Homo sapiens: one gene and its partner. The protein of the gene in region 1 interacts with the protein of each later gene in a biochemical or structural test. Each region holds a gene or a part of one and is shown on either strand. Other genes may lie near its edges. The genes, in order: NFU1 and EPM2A.

Evidence for each region.
Region 2: the proteins of NFU1 (region 1) and EPM2A form a complex in vitro, tested with the Homo sapiens proteins (one study listed by BioGRID).

The regions. Positions count from the first base shown.
Region 1 is NC_000002.12:69,431,986-69,443,357, reverse strand, and holds the start of NFU1 (NFU1 iron-sulfur cluster scaffold homolog, mitochondrial), read left to right. Parts: upstream 1-5,922; 5' UTR 5,923-5,935; coding exon 5,936-5,997; exon of another isoform or gene 5,998-6,087; intron 6,088-11,352; coding exon 11,353-11,372. UniProt on the Homo sapiens protein: Iron-sulfur cluster scaffold protein which can assemble [4Fe-4S] clusters and deliver them to target proteins.
Region 2 is NC_000006.12:145,681,735-145,692,539, forward strand, and holds part of EPM2A (laforin), read right to left. Parts: intron 5,144-10,805; exon of another isoform or gene 5,110-5,143; intron 4,563-5,109; coding exon 4,388-4,562; intron 926-4,387; exon of another isoform or gene 675-925; intron 1-674. UniProt on the Homo sapiens protein: Plays an important role in preventing glycogen hyperphosphorylation and the formation of insoluble aggregates, via its activity as glycogen phosphatase, and by promoting the ubiquitination of proteins involved in glycogen metabolism via its interaction with the E3 ubiquitin ligase NHLRC1/malin.

The DNA of each region.
Region 1 (11,372 bases):
CATACATCCAGATGGCCTGAAGTAACTGAAGAATCATAAAAGAAGTGAAAATGGCCTGTTCCTGCCTTAACTGATGACATTACCTTGTGAAATTCCTTCTCCTGGCTCATCCTGGATCAAAAGCTCCCACACTGAGCACCTTGTGACCCCTACCCCTGCCAGCTAGAAAACAACCCCCTTTGACTGTAATTTTCCTTTACCTACCCAAATCCTATAAAATGGCCCCACCCCTATCTCCCTTTGCTGACTCTCTTTTCAGACTCAGCCCATCTGCACCCAGGTGAAATAAACAGCCCTGTTGCTCACACAAAACCTGTTGGGTGGTCTCTTCACACGGATGCGAGTGAAACAGGTACACTATAGTTTTCTTCTGAAACGTAATTTTTCTTTTTCTAGTTTCCCATTTTTATCAAGGATAAATCATAGTAGGACCAATTTATTTACAAAATAAGTTTTAGTCTTATTGTACTTGGCCTGATTATTTGCATACAATGCTGTAAGCGTAGTGATTGACCATAGAGGCTCCTTTTAAATTGGCTTTGTGGGAACCATTTCATAAGGAATAGCAGATTTGACTTTTTAAAAGCCTCTTGAGGTTATCCAAGCCAAGGATTTATGTATGCCTGTAGATACCTGTATGAATTGGGGGTGAATTCCACTTTTCTTGAGGTTCCAAAGTAACTTGAGTTTCCTGGGCCTGTCAGAAAGTGACAATCTTTACTTATTACAGGTCAGGAACTTTGTAAAAGAATTGGATAGACATGGTACCAGGCCAGTCTTTCCAAAGGGCTTTTTATTGGCTCTATAAAGTCAATGTCAATTCCTCAAAGCAGTCGGAGTACATCTGAAAAAAATGCTATTCCAGTCAAAGCCTTGATAAAATAACCAGTGTCTCAAATTTTGTCCTGTTACAAAAGAAAACAGATTCTTACTGAATTTATGCAAATAACTATACTGCTATATATTAAGAATACTCACAAATAGGCCGGGTGTGGTGGCTCACACCTGTAATCCCAACACTTTGGGAGACTGAGGCAGGAGGACTGCTTGAGCTCAGGAGTTTGAGAGCAGCCTGGGCAACATAGTGAGACCCTGTCTCTGCAAAAAATAAACAAAATTAGCTGAGTGTGGTGTTGGGCACCTGTAGTCACAGTTACTTGCTTGGGAGGCTGAGGTGGAAGGATCAGTTTAGCCTGGGAAGTTGAGGCTGCAGTGAGCTGAGATTGCACCACTGCAATCCTGCCTGGGCAACAGAGTGAGACCTTGTCTCAAAAAAAAAAAAAAAAAAAAAAAAAAAAAAAGAATCTCACAAATAGTTTCCAAATTCTGGGGAAATTTAGAGAGAAAGAATATGCTTCAAATTTTGATCAGAAAGGTATATTTTACCCAACTTGTTGTAAGCTATAAATAGCTCAACAGAAAAAAGTTTTCTTGACTCTGTAAAAACAAAACAAAAATTATCAGCAATGTTTCAAACAAAAAACAGTCATTAAAAATTACTTCACACACATACAAAAATTACTTTAATATTCTATTGGTTTAGTCCCATTAATTAACTCTTGTTCTTTTTGATGTTGGGTTAGCAATCCTCATGAATACATCAGCTTTTTAATTAGAGTCCTGGAAAGCATTTTCATAGTCCAATGCTATGATCTCCAAAGTTATCGGAAACTTGTATTCAAGAGTATTTGTTAGAGTCCTTTCCATGAATTTCCTTAAAGAAGAAAATTTTGGACTGCAGCTGATTATAAACTACTTTTTGAGAAGAATCAAAATAAAACAACAATTGTCTGTGGATGACAAAACTCTTAGAACAGCCATGGTTAACCTAATGCTAGATGACGAGTTAGTGGGTGCAGCACACCAGCATGGCACATGTATACATATGTAACTAACCTGCACATTGTGCACATGTACCCTAAAACTTAAAGTATTAAAAAAAAAAAAAAAAGAACAGCCATGGTTAAAGACACAATTGACAAGGAAATTTGGTTATTTCTGTGGCACACAACGATGTAACATAATAATCATAATTATTACTGATGTCATATACTAAGACATACCAGAATTACAGGAATCTCACACAATTTTGAAACACACATTAATAACTCATTCATATAAATATAACCCAAAGAAAGTTAAACACCATTTCACATTTGACAATGCTTCCTCTCCCCCACATAGCGTTCTATTCCCTTAGTGCCTTTGTTGATTTACAAATCTTCTCCAGGAGCTCCCTGAGACCAGGAATTGTTTTGTTCATCTTAATATTACTCCACACAGGATTTTGATCATCTGTGAGTAACAGGAAACCTAATTAAACAGTACTGTAGGCAAATATTGACCTAAAAGAAAGAAGCTGAGGCAAAATTAATATAGAGAATTTATTTGGGCCAAGGTTGAGGACTGTAGCCCTGGCCATATTGCAGGTTGCCTTGGAGAGTGCTCTGGGAAAAAAGGAGAGGCTCAACTTTTTAAAGAAAAAGAGACAAATCAGGGGAGAGGAACAATTACAAAAGTTGCTCATCAGGTATTCTCATTTGACTTTTTTTTTTTCTTGAGACAGGGTCTCATGCTGTCACCCAGGCTGGAGTGCAGTGGTGCAATCACGGCTCATTGCAGCCTCAACTTCCCAGGCTCAGGTGATTCTCTCATCTCAGCCTCCCAAATAGCTGGCACTACAGGCATATGCCATGACATCTGGCTAATTTTTTGTGGAGACATGGTTTGTTTGTAGAGACTCCCAAGTGCTGGGATTAGAGGCGTGAGCCACAGCACCCGGCCCTGATACTTTTCTTTTTTAGGCTAGTCAATGGGCCTCATAATTTAAAGGGGCTCACCTTCCTCAGATAACATGTTTTTATTCTGCCAGGGTTAGTGGCTCATGCTTGTAAACCCTCCATGTTTCCCAGCATGGTCTCAAACTCCTGGGCTCAAGCAATTTGCCCACCTTGGCCTCCCAGAGTGTTGGGATTACAGGTGTGAGCCACCATGCTCAGCAGGTATTCTCATTGGTTTACAGAAATAACATTGTTAGTGACTGGCCATGCACTGTTGAACTATAGGGTATATGGCATGTTAACGGCTTCTTGACATTAGTCTAGTGTATACATAGCAAGTGACTTCAAGAAGTTGTTACTTAGCTCAAGGGCGAATGAGATATTACTGCTGCTACATTTTAAATGCCTCTCTGGGCCTGATACTTTTTCTAGTGCAGGCTTGTGGTGCAGGACTGGCAGGCAGCTCTGCTCATGGCCCTGGCATGGGATCCACTAGGCGAAGCCAGCTGGGCTCCTGAGTCAGGTGGGGACTTGGAGAACTTTTATGTCTAGCCAGAGGATTGTATATGTATCAATCAGCACTCTGTGTCTAGCTTGGGGTTTATGGATGCACCAATCAGCACTCTGTATCTAGCTAATCTGGTGGGAACTTGGAGAACTTTTATGTCTGGCTAAAGGATTGTAAATACACCAATCAGCACCCTGTGTCTAGCTCAAGGTTTGTAAATGCACCAATCAGTGCTCTGTGTCTAGCTAACCTAGTGGGGACTTGGAGAACTTTTACTCTAGCTAGAGGATTGTAAATACACCAATCAGCACTCTATGTCTAGCTCAGGGATTGTAAACGCACCAATCAGCACCCTGTCAAAACGGACCAATCAGCTCTCTGTAAAACAAACCAATCAGTACTCTGTAAAATGGACCAATCAGCTCTCTGTAAAATGGGCCAATCAGCAGGATGTGGGTGGGGTCAGATAAGGGAATAAAAGCAGGGTGCCTGAGGCAGCAGTGGCAACCTGCTTGGGTCCCCTTCCATGTTATGAAAGCTTTGTTCTTTTGCTCTTTGTAGTAAATCTTGATGTGGCTCACTCTTTGGGCCCGTGCTGTCTTTATGAACTGTAACACCCATCGCAAAGGTCTGCAGCTTCACTCCTGAAGTCAGTGAGACCACGAACCCACCAGAAGAAACAAACTCCGGACACATCTGACCATCTGAAGGAACAGACTCTGGACACACCATCTTTAAGAACTGTAACACTCACCACAAGGGTCCATGGCTTCATTCTTGAAGTTAGCGAGACCAAGAACCCACCAATTCCGGACACAGTAGCACAGAGGCTGTGGGTGGTTTGACTAGAGCAGGCCCTAAGAATGGTGGGACATAGAAGCCTCGTTTCAGGGGTTTGAGGAGTGGGAAGTGAAAAACTAGAGACTAAGAGTGCAGACCATTTTTTTAAGCCACTTGGTTCTGAAGGGAAGAAAAGAGTGTGGAAGAGGATTTGGGGCAAGGCAGGATTTTTCTTATGATAAGGAATCCATCAGAGAGGGAAAAATTGAAGTCTGAGAAGAACGATTGTTCCAAGGTGGAAGAGCCACATTTTATTTTTGATTGAGGGTCAAAAACAGAGCCTTGGACTGCCTTGCGGTCTAGAATGGGTGTGTGTGGGGGGGTGGGTGGGGGGTTGGATGGGGGAAGATCACTGGGTGGGGGGTTGGATGGGGGAAGATCACTAGTAGTTAAAAGCAAGTACGCAGCATTGGGAATGAACCAAACTCGTAGGAGGCACAGCCCACTCAGTGTGCGGGCCCGGGCGAGCTGCAGGCCTGAAACCCACCCACCCTCTTAGATGTGTCTGTGGGCCATAGAAATTACTAGGGTTGTCTTGGGTGTGGCCTCAACCTGTTCAACAACAGGTGTGCTGTTTCCATTCTGGAAACCAGTCCTCTGTCTTCCAGAACAGTGATTCTCAAATTTTAGCTGGCATCAGAATCCTGGGAAGGGTTTGTTAAAACACTACTAGGCAGGGTGAGGTAACCTAAGAGCTTTTGGAGGCCCAGGTGAGAGGGATCACTTGAGGCCAGCAGAGTTCAAGAGCAGCCCAGGCAACACAGGGAGACCTCTTCTCTACAAAAATACTACTACTACTACTGCTAATAAAAGCCAGGCACCGTGGCTCACACCTGTAATCCCAGTGCTTTGGGAGGCTGAGGCTGGAGGATGAATCACTTGAGCCCAGGAGTTGGTTTTGGTGAGCTATGATCGCACTCCTGCTCTCCAGCCTGGGCAACAGAGATAGACCCTGTCTCTGGAAAAAGAAAAAAAAAAAAAGCAAGTAACAAAGATTTCTAGTCCCCACCTACAGAGATTGTGCCTCAGTAAGTATAAAGTGGGGCCCAGGATTTCTAACATGTTCTAACGTGCATTTCTAACGTGTTCTCCTGCTTTTTTTTGGCCCCTAGTCCGCACTTTGAGAACCGTTGTCCTAGAGAAAACGGAATACTCCAGGAAGGTTCTGGAAGAATAGGTAATGGGCTTTGGCACTCTGCCCTGGAAACTAGTCAAGTCTCATGTTAATCGGAGAAGGGCAGCACTGTACCAGATACATCCTCTGTGCGGGTTGGTCCAAGATGACCAAGTGGCAGCTGACAAGCACAGCTATGAGGAAGGGTTAGACACAGTTCCACATCAGACCCATGGGAAAAGGGCAGGAGAAATGCGAGAACCTTTTAGAAGGAATGCTCCAGGGAGTCTTTGGGGGCAGTCACTGAGCTGGGCCTGGAGGCTGAGTAGGGTCCTAGAGGAGGGAATGGGTCAGGTTTAGGGGCTGGAAACAGCATTCGCAAGGCAGCACCAGCACCAGCTAAAAACCTAGCCAACAGGGAAAACAAAGTACGGAAACACGCATGCGTTCACAGTGCTGCGTGAATTAACCAAGCGTTGGCGCAAACGGGAAAGGTTCCCCGGCCTCTCTTGGTCAGGGTGACGCAGTAGCCTGCAAACCTCGGCGCGTAGGCCACCGCACTTATCCGCAGCAGGACCGCCCGCAGCCGGTAGGGTGGGCTCTTCCCAGTGCCCGCCCAGCTACCGGCCAGCCTGCGGCTGCGCAGATCTTTCGTGGTTCTGTCAGGGAGACCCTTAGGCACTCCGGACTAAGATGGCGGCGACGGCCAGGCGGGGCTGGGGAGCTGCGGCTGTTGCCGCCGGGCTGCGCAGGCGGTAGGTGACGAGCCTGGAGCTCCGAATAGGTGTGCCGCTGGGCTTAGCCAGCGGAGCGGTCGCCGCCTTGCAGACCCTCTCTCGAGGCGGGTGGGTAGTGCATCTGATGGAGCCGGCGGGTCCGCCCTGTCGCCGTAGTTGGGGGTGAGCCCTGAGGCTGTCTGTGCGGGAGCTCGGCGCTTCTGTGGCCTAATCCGGGCGGACTCTCTGGAGCTTCCTCTCAGGCTCAGAGACCCAGTTCTTGAGTCTCTGCGGTACGGAAGCTTGTAGAGACTGGCTGTAGAGCCAGAACGGAGGAGCTGTTTTAAAATCGTGTGCCTCTCCCGCCCCCAGGCCCTCTACCGGGTGCATTCCCTCCTCTTCTAAACGCAGAATCAGAATGTCACACAGAAGGGAAGAAAATACCTTGTCTCGTTTCCTCATTTTCCCAGTAAGGCCCTGAAAGAGGAGGTGACATGTCCAAGGTTACACAGTTTCTAAGTGATGGAATTCCGACGAGAACCAGGACCCCTAGATTCCCTGCACCCACCACCATTAAGCCCACTCTGTTCCCTTGTTTTTTCCGCCTCCCTGAGCCCTACCTTTGAGTTTCACCTTTCAAAGACTTCTGTGAACATTGCTAAGAGGACATTTATGTAGGTGTACCTTAATTTTACGTCTGGAGAAAATGGCCTACGGAGAGTTTGCCCTCTAGAGTATTAGACATTGTAGTGTTAATGGTGCTCTTGAAGTTTAAATGTATATCCTAAAAAGATTTAAGTTGGTAGAATTTTTTGTTAGTTACCTCCTGTGTTTGAGTAGATGTCTTCCTTGAATAATGTAATCCACTCTTACTTTAAAAAAACAAGACTTTAAACCTGTATGTTGGAATGTGCTTCCTCTTTATTCATTCTGCTGCCTTTTCCCTGGGCTGAAGGGACGAGAATATTATTCTTCTAGTGCATTTCCAAATTCCAGAGTATTCACAGATTTAGATACTGAGCTATAGAAAAAGGCATTTTTACCCCAAACCTTGAACTGCACTCAATTAGTAATTATTGGGCACCAATTAAATAATGGTAGCAGCTGCCATTTATTGAGCACTTACTGCATGGCCTGGCACTGGTTTAAGCACTTTACATGGATTCTCTGGATTATTTATGAGGTAGCTGTGAAACTAATCTCATTGTAGAGATGAAGAACTGAGGCCATTGTGCTAGCAGCTAGAAATGAAGATAGTTTCTCCCCTTAATGAGTATGCAGTCTAGCAAGAAAAATATATTAACAAATAATGACAGTCATGAGTGCTGTAATAGATTCATGTAATTTAAAGTGGTGTGCCGGGCGTGGTGGCTCACGCCTGTAATCCCAGCACTTTGAGAGGTCAAGCTGGGCGGATTGGCTGAGGTCAGGAGTTCGAGACCAGTCTGGCCAACATGGTGAAACTAAAAAAAAAAAAAAAAAAGCTGGGCGTGGTGGTGTGTGCCTGTAATCCCAGCGAGTTGGGAGGCTGAGGCAGGGGAATTGCTTGAACCAGGGAGGTGGAGGTTGCAGTGAGCCAAGATCACGCCACTGCACTTCAGCCTGGGTGACAGAGTGAGAAAAGCGAGATTATTTCCATCTCAAAATAAAGTGGTGACAGCTCTTACTGTGATCAACACTGGAGCTAGTGTGGGGAGTGGCAGTCAGGACTTCACAGATTATTTGATTCCCATTCAGTGTTGATTCCATTGTTCTCTTGAATCCTCGGTGCCAATCCTTTTATCTCTCCAATAGCATCTAAGAAACTCTATGGGTTACAGTCCCACAGTATCCCAGTAGTCTTTTGCTTATCAATGGCATATAAAGATTATTGAAGGTAGTAAACAGTTCATCTGTATTTTGTTAATACTTAATTGGTGCCCACTCTTTCTTTTCCACGAGAAGAATTCCAGTTTTGTGAGAGAGAGAAAAAAATGTGGCAGCCGCTGTTGCTTCTTGCCTATTTTAAGCAGAAGATAATTAGATAAATGTGATCTTGTGTATGATCACAAACAATTTTGGCCTTTGGAAAAAATTTTAACAGAAAATTATGACAGTGAAAGACCGTTCTAACTGACCATCATTTTGCCTTTAACCTCTAGACTGCCCATTCCCGGGCTTGGGCCAAGCTAACTTTGGGAGACATTTAGTTTATAGTTTAAATGATAATAGCCCTTTCCCAAAATTAAACCACCTTTATAAAGCTAATGAAAGACCACCAGGTTTGGAGGATGAGAGGAGCCTGAATTCTGCTAAGGTGTAGATGTAAATGATTACCAGCCATTATTCTGGCGGTCCTAAGAGTTGCAACTTCCCCAATTACTCCTGCAGAAAACATCTCTCTTGTAGAACCTAAGATTAGCCTTTTCAGGTTTTTGCATTTCTGACTGGTCCTGTGGCCCCGCCCACAAACGGGCTGAGCACTCAGGAGGATCATTTTCCGCACCCCTATGATTGCATCCCCAACCAGTCAGCAACACCCGTTCCCTGGCCTGCCAGTCTATCCTTGAAAACCCCTAGCCTCAGATCCAGAGAGACTGAGTACTAAAACTCCACTCTCCCTTTCAGCTGGCTCCATGTGAATTAAACTCTTTATTGCAAATCCCCTGTCTTGATGAATTAGCAGTATCTGGACAGTGGGCAAAGTGAACCCATTGGCAATTATAAATGACTCCTGTACTTAAAATTTTTCTATGGCTCCTATGAAGTGGCAGTGGTAATGGATAGCGATGATATTTTCAAGTAAACCGGATTTTAAAGTAAATTGCATTGGGATTTTAAGAATTTTTACTATTAAAGTCTCCTTTTACTTCCTTTTCCAGTAATATTTGCTTTCATTTTCTTCCTTTGTTTTCAGTTTGTCAAAGCCATAAAAAATAGCCAATTAAGTTTTCTCTGTAAGAGTGAAGTAAAGTTAGAGGCCTGGCGCTGTGGCTCACGCCTGTAATCCCAGCACTTTGGGAGGCCGAGGCTAGTGGATCATGAGGTCAGGAGTTCAAGACCAGCCTGGCCAAGATGGTGAAACCCTGTCTCTACTAAAAATACAAAAATTAGCCGGGCATGGTGGTGGGCATCTATAATCCCAGCTACTTGGGAGGCTGAGGCGGAGAATTGCTTGAACCCAGGAGGCGGAGGTTGCAGTGAGCCAAGATCGCACCACTGCACTCCATCCTGGGCGACAGAGCAAGACTCCGTCTCACAAAAAAAAAAAGAAAAAAAAAAGTGAAGTGAAGTTACAACACTGGGTTAATATGTTTCCATCCAAAAAGCATATAAAAGGCAGGGCATGGTGGCTCACGCCTATAATCCCAGCACTTTGGGAGGCCAAAGTGGGAGGATTACTTGAGCCAGGAGCTGGAGATCAGCCTGAGCAACATAGTGGTAATCCATCTCTACCAGAAGTAAAAAAAAAAAAAAAAACTAGCTGGGCATGGTGGCATACAGCTGTAGTGTCACCTACTTGGGAGGCTGAGGTGGGAGAATCACTTGAGCCTAGGATGTTGAGGCTGCAGTGAGCCCTGATCACACCATTGTACTCCAGCATGGGTGACAGAACAAGACCCTGTCTCAAAACAAAACACGAAAAGCGTGATCAAGATCGTTGGCTGTGTAATCCCAGCATTTTGGGAGGCCAAGGCAGGTGGATCACTTTAGGTCAGGAGTTGGAGATCAGCCTGGCCAACGTGGTGAAACCCTGTCTCTACTAAAAATATAAAAATTAGCCGGGTGTGATGGTGTACACCTGTAATCCCAGCTACTAGGGAGGCTGAGGCAAGAGAATCACTTGAACCCAGGAGGTGGAGGTTGCAGTAAGCTGGGATCGCATCACTGCACTCCAGCGTGGGCGACAAAGTGAGACTCAGTCTCAAAAAAAAAAGACGGGCCAGGTGTGGTGTCTCATGCCTGTAATCTCAGCACTTTGGGAGGCCGATACGGGAGGATCACCTGAGGTCAAGAGTTCGAGACCATCCTGGCCAACATGGTGAAACCCTGTCTCTACTAAAAAGTACAAAAATTAGCCAGGCATGGTGGCGGGCACCTGTAATCTCAGCTACTCGGGAGGCTGAGGCAGCAGAATTGCTGGCACCTGGGAGATGGAGGTTGCAGTGAGCCGAGATTGTGCCATTGCACTCCAGCCTGGGCCAACAACAGTGAGACTCCATCTCAAAAACAAAAAGGACAGTCGTATACTTTTTTTTTTTTTTTTTTTGGAGATGGAGTCTTGCTCTTTGGGCCAGGCTGGAGTGCAGTGGCACGATCTCGGCTCACTGCAACCTACGCCTCCTGGGTTCAAGCGATTCCTCTGCCTCAGCCTCCCGAGTAGCTGGGATTACAGGCGCCCACCACCACTCCCAGCTATTTTTTGTATTTTTAGTAGAGATGGAGTTGCACCATGTTGGGCAGGCTCGTCTCGAACTCCTGACCTCAGGTGATCCACCTGCCTTGGCCTCCCAAAGTGCTGGCATTACAGGCGTGAGCCACCACCCCTGGCCCAATAGTATACTTTCTTTTAGATTTTTTGAAGTATTGAAATACTTTTCAAAACAGGTAATATAGGTTATCTTGAGAGAGGGAAACGTAAGGGACAGGAAAGGAGGGAGGCTTTCACTATTTATGCTTTTTTCCCTTACCAGTTTTGAACCATGTGACTCTATTGCCTAATTCTAAATTTTTTAAAAAAATAAAAAAGCTTATAGTTATTTGCTTCCTTCCTGTATAACCAAGAGTCTGGGACTATGGGTTATAAATTACTAATGTAGATACAATTCTGTTTCTTTTTTTTTTTGAGGTAGAGTTTCACTCTTGTTGCCCAGGCTGGAGTGCAATGGCATGATGTTGGCTCACTGCAACCTCTGCCTCCTGGGTTCAAGCAATTCTCCTGCCTCAGCCTCCTGAGTAGCTGGGATTACAGGCATGTGCCACCATGCCCGGCTAATTTTGTATTTTTAGTAGAGATGGGGTTTCTCCATGTTGGTCAGGCTGGTCTTGAACTCCCAACCTCACGTGATCCACCTGCCTCGGCCTCCCAAAATGCTGGGATTACAGGCGTGAGCCACCTCACCCAGCCCAATTCTGTTTCTTATACCTCAATGTTATATTATCCTGTGCACACCCGGTTATCAAGGGTAGGAATTTCCATTTGAGCTCTACCTGATTTTGAATTGTTTGTAGATATTGCTTGCCTAAGTAAGTGGAAATAATGTAGATGGAAGATGAAAAGTCAGTTCTCTAATTATTTCTATTGCGGGTTATGTTTAAATTTTACATAGGTCTTTTTTATACATGAGAAGTAGAAACCAACTTTAAAAGATTAGAGCTCTTAAAATGTCATTCATTATGTGCTTTTAAATGCAGGTTCTGTCATATGTTGAAGA
Region 2 (10,805 bases), on another chromosome or scaffold:
CTGTTCCATTGATCTATCAAAGGATAACTGTAGTCTCTCTATGGAGACAGGTGCTTGTCAGCTTATATATGCATCTGAATATTGAGAAGTACCAGAATGTTCTCTTTTACATGACATGTTCTCTAGGTTGCCATATGTCCTAGCATTCCCAGTAAAGTCCTATTTTCATACCCCATGTTCAGGCTAATTATGTAAAGTACCTCTTTTTACTCTCAAAGCATCCTGGTTGGAGAAAATTAGGTGGCTACCCTAATATTGCTCTCTCACACCTCTCTATATGTACACTTGCTATTTGCATTAGTCCGTTTTCACTCTGCTAATAAAGACATACCCAAGACTGGGTAACGTTTACAGGAAGGAGGTTTAATGGACTCACAGTTCCACGTGGCTCGGGAGGCCTCACAATCACGGTTGAAGGCAAGGAAGAGCAAGTCACGTCTTACATGGATGGCAGCAGACAAAGAGAGAGCATGTGCAGGGAAACTCCTCCTTATAAAACCATCAGATCTCATGAGACTTATTCACTATCACGAGAACAGTATGGGAAAGACTCGCCCCCATGATTCAATTACCTCCCACTAGTCTCTCCTACAACACATGAGAATTGTGGAAGCTACAATGCAAGACGAGATTTGGGTCGGGACACAGCCAAACCATATCGCTATTCTTCTTACCTTGAATTCCCTTTCCCAAATGTCCTGAGAAAAAGATGGCTTCACATTTCTGTTCAAGTTCTACGTCCTCATAAAGATTTCCTTGAATTAAAGATTTTTCCTGTCCCTTTTTACACTACATATATAACTTCATTACAGCAAATATTTAACTGTATTGCAGCTGTTTACATGTTGTCTTCCACTACAGCATAAGTTCCATGAGAGCAAGGATCATGTCTCTCCATTATTGATGGTCCAGCACTCAAGATGGGCTGCACAGAGTAATCCACACAATTCTTACTGAATAAATGAAGTTACCATTTATCTTATTATATAACATTTAATTTTTAGATATATATGTTCTAAAAAGCCTCATCCTTATAAAGGATATTGGCAATTCCATTCTGATATGATTTATCCCAACCATAAAAAAATTCTAGGCATAATTCCATTCCTATATTCAAACTAAAGAGTGAGAGTCTGTAATTACAAATTCTTAGTTGAGTTTGAATACCTCCATTGTATAAATGCTCAAACATATAATCTACCTGTCTGTATCTATTTCAGCAGCTAAGATAAATTCACAAATAATCTTAGCATTATACATTGTCAGATGAACATAGCAAACAGATAGAATTCGATGTTTTCAATTTAATAATGAAATATAAAATGCCTTTCTGACTCTTTTCTTTTAAACTGAATTCAGATTTTCATCTTACCCAGTTTCATGTGAAGGTGAATTATGCTGGAATTTTTAAGGGGAGTTGGACTGAAACAACTGAAGGTGCATTAAAATATTCCTTTTCTATTCTAAACTACTGTCCTTTCACACATGTAAAAATCACATGGAGATGTTGAAAAATAAAGATTCCCAGGATTTGGTGTGTGTGTGTGTGTGTGTGTGTGTGTGTGTGTGTGTGAGTGTGTATATATTAGATTATATATTATACTCCAGGTATACATACACATATATTATTTATTATTTTAATATATAAAGTATTATATAGTATACATACATTTTAATATATTACTATTTATAAGCATAGATATATTTACACCTTGCAGTGGATAACAGGTTGAATTACCTGAGAATTCAGTAGGATAGAGACTTGGATGTAAAACTATGTTGCTTTAAAGAAAATAAAGAAACGTACGCTTTCTTGCACAGTTGAGTATATGAACTAAGGTTCACTCTCACCTGCACATACAGCTTTGATACTGTAAGTGAAGCTGAAGAAATACTCTATTTAAAAATTAAAACATCAACTCAGAGAGCAAATTTTCTCAGAGTGAGAGGTGTACCCCACAACAGACCCTGCCTGTCTTTTCATTCAGGGTGGGGCGGAGGAAGTATGCAGGTGGGTTGTCTGATCAGAGTCTGCTGAGAAAGATAGGATCTGCCCACCTGAGCACAGCTTGCCCCCAACACCTCTCACAGGTACAGAGGCCAGTAATAGCAGAGGAAAATTATGACAGCCATATACAACAATCAACCTAATCTTTCACATAGTAAATATGAACAACTAATAATCATGTTACCTAAAACAATAATAACACAAAAAAGAAAGATCAAAATGAATGAAAAACAATTGATTCAGGAGGAAAAAGTATAGTTCCAGTAAGAGAAGAGAACTTAAAAATAACTCTCATTAGTATTCTAAGAAAGATTCATGAATATACTCATTCATAAACAAGAACAAACTAATATGCAAAAAGTGAATAACAGAATAAGTAAAAGTCCATGAAAATTAAGAATACAATTACCAAAATTAAGAAAAAAATAATCGATAGTTGAATTGGAAAAAAAGAAGCCTCTCAAAATGTAAAGCAATAAAAAAGATGACAAATATAAAATGTAAATCCAAGAGGTCCAACATCCATCTAAGGAGTGTCTCTAATGACAAAGAGCAAAGGCAATCAAGGAGAAGAAATAATCATTCAGTGGAAAAAAATCTCCAGAGCCCAAGATATGACTCTTCAGAAAAAAGGGTTCATTCAGGAAATGTGGTTCAGGATCATTTAAAAGAACCCATAAACATATCCTCATTAAATGTCAGACCATCTCAAGAAGTGTTGCTTCTCATTCCTTTCTCTGGATCTTCTGCTTCTCCTTGACTTCTAAATTGTGTGAACCAGGGCTCAATATTTTTGCTTCTTCTCTTTGTCTCTTCTATACTTCACTCATTTACTATTGTCTCATCTAGACTCAACATTTTGAATGCTATCTATGTCTTGATAACTGCCAATTTTATATCTTTATTTCCAAGCTCTCCATAAAATTTCTGACATCAAATCAATTTCCTTCCTGTAATCTAACAGACATTTCAAAAAATGACTAAAGTAGAACTTGTACCTCAATCCCTACTTCAAATTGCTCATCTCCTAGTCTTCCCCATCTCAGTAAGTGGCAACACCATTACAGTAGCTCAGGCCATAAAACCACGAGACATGCTTAACTCTTGTCTTCCTCATTCTGTGCATACAACCCATCAGCAAAGCCAACATCTACCAGAAGTTTGAAAGAAAAATGTGTTCAAGAGGACTATTAATTCCCTAAAACTATTGTGAAATTGCATTTTCTCTCTCTTTTACCTCTCACAACTCGGTTTATATTAATTGTATCTCTCATTCAAAATAACACATTCTTTAAGAATATGAGAATGCATCTCCTTGTGTATGGTACAAACACTGTAAGTTCTACAATAAATAACACTTACATAATATTTTAAATGTTGGCAATTGCTTTCAAATTTTAAATAATCGAAGTGTGAAAGACATTTATATTTACTAAGTTTAATGTAAATTCTATAAGCCTTGAAATTATAAAAGTAATTTAAAAGCAGGAGTTAGTAGGTGGAAATAGATGTGGAAAAAAATACAGGAACAAAAAAAATCTCTACTCTTACAATGTAGGAAACTAGGAGACACTGTGAAAAATTGATGGGTCAAGACATAGAATTTGTATGATGGTAAGTAACAATGGAACTTCTCAAAAAATGCCTGGTAGGGACTGGAGTGGGGAGAGAGGACAAGTATGAGAGATGTCAATTTCTTATGTGTAATAGAGGGGAATCAATAGCTATTTTTAAACTGGTACATTAACAAGCAACACATATGCATATTGTTTAAGGTTTAGATTTAATCTCAAGAAAAACTAACCATAAAGTGATTAAAAATAATCACTTCTGATGAGTGGGAAAGGAGAAAAGGATAATAAGCCTTATGTTTTATTTAGCAACCTCCTGGTTTAGGAATTAAATGAACAAATAAATCAAAATATTAACAAATAATAAAGCAGATAATCACATTCAATCTAGTTCTGTGCCTGTATTTTCACACATATTTATTTGGATAAGATTGTATAAGGAAATACCAATTTTTGTTTCACTGGTAGTCAGTAGCATAAAGGACACAAATATTAATTTAGTCTATTTTAGTGTAGTTCTTATTTTTAATCCACTACATAAGTACACAGATTGGTTAGCTACTATCTGGTCAAAACATATTGATGCTAGGGTATGCATTTATTAAAGAATTCTATTTTTAAAATCCTCCACATCTAGACCCAGAAAATCTCACACACTGATTCACTGTAATTTTCTCCTCAAAGTACTACAGGCCTATAGACCCCTCCCAAGTGAGGCACTGCAGTTTCGAACACAGTAAATATTTCCATTGTGCTAATGCTATCTCTTGTCCTACTTCTATGCCTATAAATATAGCACTATTTTTACCTTGAATAATGCATGGCTTGGTGGCCTGCAATATTAAAATAGAAGTCTGTTGTGTGCTTCATTTCATTGGTGTGCCCAGTGGCCTCAATCCAGTGTCCTATTGGGAGACAATACACACCATCCACCAAGTTGTTTTCATTGTAAGTACAGCAACGGTCATGATGAGGTCCATTGCCTAGAACAAGAAAAAATGATAAACAGAGCAATTAAATCAGTGTTTTGTTTAAATATCCTCAAAGCAGCTGATACAAAATTAATAGCAAGAAAAAAATAAACATAAAGCTACTTAATCTACACATTTCAGTATAAACAAAAAAGACTAGAGTGAAAAACAGAACGGTAGGAATTTGTAAAGAGCTACTTAGGAAAATCAGAGTTTTTTACTCCCTTTGAGTACATGGGTTATAAAAAGCATGTTAACTCTTTCAGAGCTTCATGGTACCTCTCAGTGCTCTAAGAGGCCATTATGAATCACTTTGCAGCCTGAGAAGCTCCTAAAAAAAGTTTTTAAAGCTATTAATGCCCCTGTATTATACACTTCTATCTTTCTGGTATGCAAATTTACGAATAAAATCAGGAATAAAGTGTTGTAGTATCAGCTCAACAAAAAAATGCATAATTATAAATAAATGCATTAATAAGTAATAAATGACCACATCAAATCTACTTTACAGGTAAAACAGTTATTATTATTGTTTTCAAATGAGGAAAACAAGTCTCACAGAGATTAACTAGCTTGCCCAAGGTCACAAAACTAGTAGTGCGGAGCTAGTAGCACCTGCCTCTCCTAGTCCCCCACCTTTCTGGCGTCTGATGCCTTTGTGATGCTCCCTGCTGATGTCACATGCACAAAGACACACCATCTTCCTTCCAGGGCCATGGATCAAAGGAAGCAGACACACATCTCTAAAAATATTATTTGCCTATTTCACGATTGCCCAGTATCAACTACACTAGTTGCTATGGTATGAATGTTTTTGTCCCCCCAAAATTTATATGTTGAAATCCTAACACCCAAGGTGTTGGTATTAGAAGCTGGGGCCTTTAGGAGATGATTAGGTCATGAAGAAGAACCCTCACAAATGTGATTAGCTCCCTTATAAAAGAGGGGTGAAAGAAACCCCTTGCTCTGTTCCACCATGTGAGAACACAGCAAGTCGTCGCCATCTATGAACCAGTAAGTGAGCCCTCACCAATCACTGAATCTGGTATGCCTCAATCTTAGACCCCCCAGCCTCCAGAATTGTAAGCAATAAATTTCTATTGTTCATAAGCTAACCAATATATGGTGTTTTGTTTATAGCAGCTCAAATGGTCTTACATACTAGTAAACCTTGATTTCTACAAAAATTATAATTCATACATTATTTTTACTACCTTTTTATCATCCCATTTCAAATCATGCCTCTCTTTATACTACCTAAGTATAATGTACTGTAAGAAAGACATGTAAGCAAACTAAATGCATGAGTGGTTTACAGAAATAAATCACATTTGTTATGAATACAAAAATGTGATTCATTTGTTCTTTTCTCTTTGTTCTGTCTTACAAAATATTTAACCTAAATTTGCTTGGCGTAAGCTCTCAAAAAATCCTTAAATTATTTGATGTTTCTTTGAGATATAACTCCTTCCATCAGACAGAAGGTACAGGATGACTCTCTTAATAAACCATTACTGATCTTCCTAGATCAGTCTCCTCTTTTTTCTCTTAATGGATTTTTTTTCTCGACGACTACAAGGTGCTGCACCACATCTCTATTAACCTTCATTTTTAATAGATAAAAACCAAACTACACTAGCAACCTCACTTCTAGAAACATATCCAACAGAAATATTACTAAGAAAAAAGAATTTCTGATGCACACAGAGATACATGCGTACAGTAATACTATTTTAATAGAAAATACTGTAAACCATATAAGTTTTTTTTCATTCTTCTACAGATATTTATTGAGACAGGTACTGTGCTAGGTCATGTTAAGAACTCAGATATTTATCATAAGAGCAACTAAAAATTTGAAATATTCTAAGCAGGCATGTAACATAACCAGATTTTATTTTAAGGATACCTCTCTGGCTACAGAGTAAAAAAATAATTCAAGAACAATCAGATAGAAGCAGAGAGTCCATTTAAGAAACTACTATATTGGCCTAGGTAGTTTATGATGAAGCTTGGTCACAGACTTTGAAAGGATTATGCAGATTCAAGAGGGAAAGGCCACAGGACTTGGTGATTAATTGGAAAAGGAAGGTGAAGATGAAAGGGGATTAACAATGCCTCTTAAGCTTCTAGTGAAAATAATTCAATATACAGTGGCACTATTCACTGAGATGCAAAATCTGAAAGAGGCTGTAAGGAAAGATCATCTATCTAGTTCTGGCAATGTTGGGTTTGGAGTGCTCTTTAGATATCCAAAAGGAGTCCTCAAAAGAGAGCTGGAGTTACTCATTTGACATTAAGACCAGAAATCTGAACTAAAAAAATAAATATATGAGTAATTTGAGTGTAAATGGTAATTGAAATAGGAACATAGATGAGTCACAAAGAAAAACAATATTAATAAGGAAAAAAGTTCTAGAACAAAGTCTGAAAGTTTTTCAATGTTTAACAGCCAGCGAGAGAAGGATAAACTTACAAAAGATGAATAGAGGAGCTGAAAAGGAAAAGTAGGAGTGACTAAGTGAAGCAGCAGAGCATGACTGAAAGTGTAAACATAGACTACAAACTGGATATGGTTACTTCTAGGAAATGGAATTGGATGGAGGGGAACTGTCATAGTCAACTGTTTTGAATTGATTGGATTAGTTACAAGGAGCGGGTGTTACTTTTTTAGTTAAATAAAACAATATCTGTGGCTCCCATTGGTCAGTATAATTGACTTACAACAATTGAATTATTACCTATTAAAAATATAATTGTTGAAGAGATCAAATATTCATAAATTACAATGGTCAAGAAGAATTATTTATGTGTCATCATCTTCATAAGAATTCTTCATTCCTAGAGTGATTTCTTTAATTACTCATTTTTACACATTTATGTTTTAGGCAACATTTTTAAAAGTCTTTCATGGATAGTAAACTGAGTTATTCAAAATATGTTCTAATAATTAAAATGTCTTTTAGAGGATGGGTTATTGTCTTTTTAATTTCACCTAATGAAATGGCAAAAATGAATAGTAAAATAATTTTGGTTTTGGAGATTTCTGCATGGAGAACTATGGAATAAATGTACTTTTCCCTAGTCCTCCCACTAAGTATAATTTAAAACCCTGAAAATTATAAATAAACAAACATAAGATAACTTTGAAAGACAAAGAGAAGAAGACAGACTATCCAGGGACACTGAGACCTAAGAAAAGACCTAAGTATTGAGTTCCCTGCATTTTCTTTTTGCCTTATATATCCCAGACTTAGATCTGAAGAAGCCAGCAACCTGGTAACACAAGGACAGAAAAAGAAAACATGACAAAAGTCCATTCTCTCTAGCCAAATGAAAAGACAAGCCTAGCCAGACAGAAATCTGTTTGATAATAACTACACTACTCCAGTCAAACCCACTGAAAAAATGTGGCCCCACACCCACTCAGGCCAGCAAAGGCCAAGCATGGGTACACTTCCACTTTTGTTTGCCAAGCTGTATTGCAGTGCCTCAACCCACTCACTATCATGGTGTCAGAGAAGGATGAGTAGGGGTCTGAAACTTTCAGCATCATCGTTGGCAATATAGTGGAGTCCAAGTGGAAAGGTGGACTTCCACCTCCATTTGGCAGTAACGAGGTGCCCCTTCTTTCCACTGAGATCGTGACAAAGGTGACCTAGTGGAAAGTCAAGATTTCCACCTCCTTCCCACCCGACCATCAGTGGATGCCATGTAGGAAGCAGTAACAAGGCATTCCTCCCTGTCTCAGCCAGGGAGCTATCAATGGAGGCCTAATGGAGAGTTAGAACTACCACCCCACTCAGGGAGGAGTCTGTTTGGTTTGGTTATGAATGGAAACAGTGTGAGGAACCTGGGTAATAAGGTGGGACCTCCATTCTTCTGCTGGAGTGGTGTCAGAAGAATTCAGTTAAAATCAAAGGTTTGCATAAGAGCTAACCTCAGGCCGGGCACGGTGGCTCACGCCTGTAATCCCAGCACTTTGGGAGGCCGAGGCGGGTGGATCATGAGGTCAGGAGATCGAGACCATCCTGGCTAACAAGGTGAAACCCCGTCTCTACTAAAAATACAAAAAATTAGCCGGGTGCGGTGGCGGGCGCCTGTAGTCCCAGCTACTCGGGAGGCTGAGGCAGGAGAATGGCGTGAACCCGGGAAGCGGAGCTTGCAGTGAGCCGAGATTGCGCCACTGCAGTCCGCAGTCCGGCCTGGGCGACAGAGCGAGACTCCGTCTCAAAAGAAAAAAAAAAAAAAAAAAAAAAGAGCTAACCTCATTACATAATACCCAAAATGTCTAGGTTTCAATAGAATGTTACCCATTATACCAATAACCACTAAGATCTCAAACTAAATGGAAAAAAAAAAAGATGCCGGATAAAGGCCAACACCAAGAGAACAATGATGTTAGAATTATGTGATAATTATGTGATAAAGATTTTAAGGCCTCAGTAACCCATTAGAACACATTTCAAACAAATGAAGAATCGGAATGTCTCAGCAATGGAATGGAAGATGAAAAGAGGAACTAAATATTAATTTTAGAACTGAAAAACACAATATTTGAAATTTTCAAAACTCAATAGATGGGTTTAAGAGCAATATGGAAGGGACAGAGGAAAGAATTCACAGACTTCAAGATAGAATCATGGAAATTACCCAATCTAAACAGCAAACAACAGAAAAGTAGGCTGAATTAAAAAAAAAAAAAACAGACACTTAGGGACTTGTGGTACTATTAACAGAAGATCTAAATTTATGTCATTGGAGTCTTGGAAGAAGAGGGAAAAGATAGTAGGGCTTAAAAGTACTTAAGAAAATAATGCCGGAAAACTTTTCAAATTTGGCAAGAGGCAAAACCTACAAATTCAAGCAGGTGAGCAAAGTCCAAACAACATAAACCCAAAGAAATCAATACCGAGACATGACATATTTAAACTTCTGAAAACTAACAACAGAGAAAATCATAAAAGTAGCCAGAGAAAAACAGCAATGTAAAGGAAAAAATATTCTAATATGAGCAGATTTCTCATCAGAAGTCACCAAAGGAAGTGTCATTTTTCAAGTGCTGTAAAAAAGAACAACTGTCAACCAAGAATCTTACTTTGTGACTATTTCCTTCAGGAAAAAAAGGGAAAATCAAAACATGCTTATGAAGGAAAACTAAGAAAATTTTGCCGCTGAATTATCTTAAAAATGACTAACAGAAGATGTCTAAACAAAAAGAAACTCTTTGAAAACAGGAAGAATGAGCACAGTAAACAAAATTATAAGTAAATAAGCAAACATTCTAACATTGTCTGATGCTATTCTACATGTATGTAAAGGAAATATTTAAGGCAATTATATTGCAAATGAGGAAGGACAAACGAATGAAAAAGGAGGTAAGTTTTCTAAAATTCACTCAAACTCGTAAAAGGTTGATACCAGTCAACTATGATGTTAGGTATATAATATACATAATGTATATAGAAATTCTATGTGTAAATCAAAACAGAATTCTAAAAAAATGTTCAATTATGAACCAGACATGCCACACAATCAGAGAAAAAGGAGGAAGAGAAAACAACCAGAAACAAAAAATAAAATGGCAAACTTAGGCTCTAACATACCAATAATTATGTTAAATAGTCTAAATACACCAATGAAAATACAAAAGTTGGCAGAATAATTTTTAAGTGAATCAATTATATGCTGTCTAGAAGCAATTCACTTCAAATTATATACACAGGTGGGAAGTAAAAGCATAGAAAAAGATATACTATGCAAACATTAATCAAAAAGCAGGAGTAGTTATATTACTATTATATAAAGTATACTTCAGAGAAAAGAAAATTACTAGAGAGGGGAAATTATACAATGTTTAAAGTATCAATCTAACAAGAAGACACAGCAACTTTAACTGTGTATATATCAAACAGTAAGGTGGTTAAATACGTAAAGCAAAAAACTGAGAGAACTGAAAGAATTTTAAAACTCCAGAATTATAGTTTAAGACCTCAACACCTCACCCAAAACAATTGTTAGAACAATTAGACAGAAAATCAGCAAGGATATTAGAAACCTCAAGAACACCATCAACCAACATTATCTAGTTGACATTTATACAGCACCCAATATAGCAGAATGCACATGTTCAACAGTACATAAACCAAGATAGAACATATCCTGTACCATAAAACAACTTCAAATTTTTAGAAAATTTAAATCATACAAATTGTGTTTTCTGACATTAACAGAATTGAACTAGAAATCAATAAT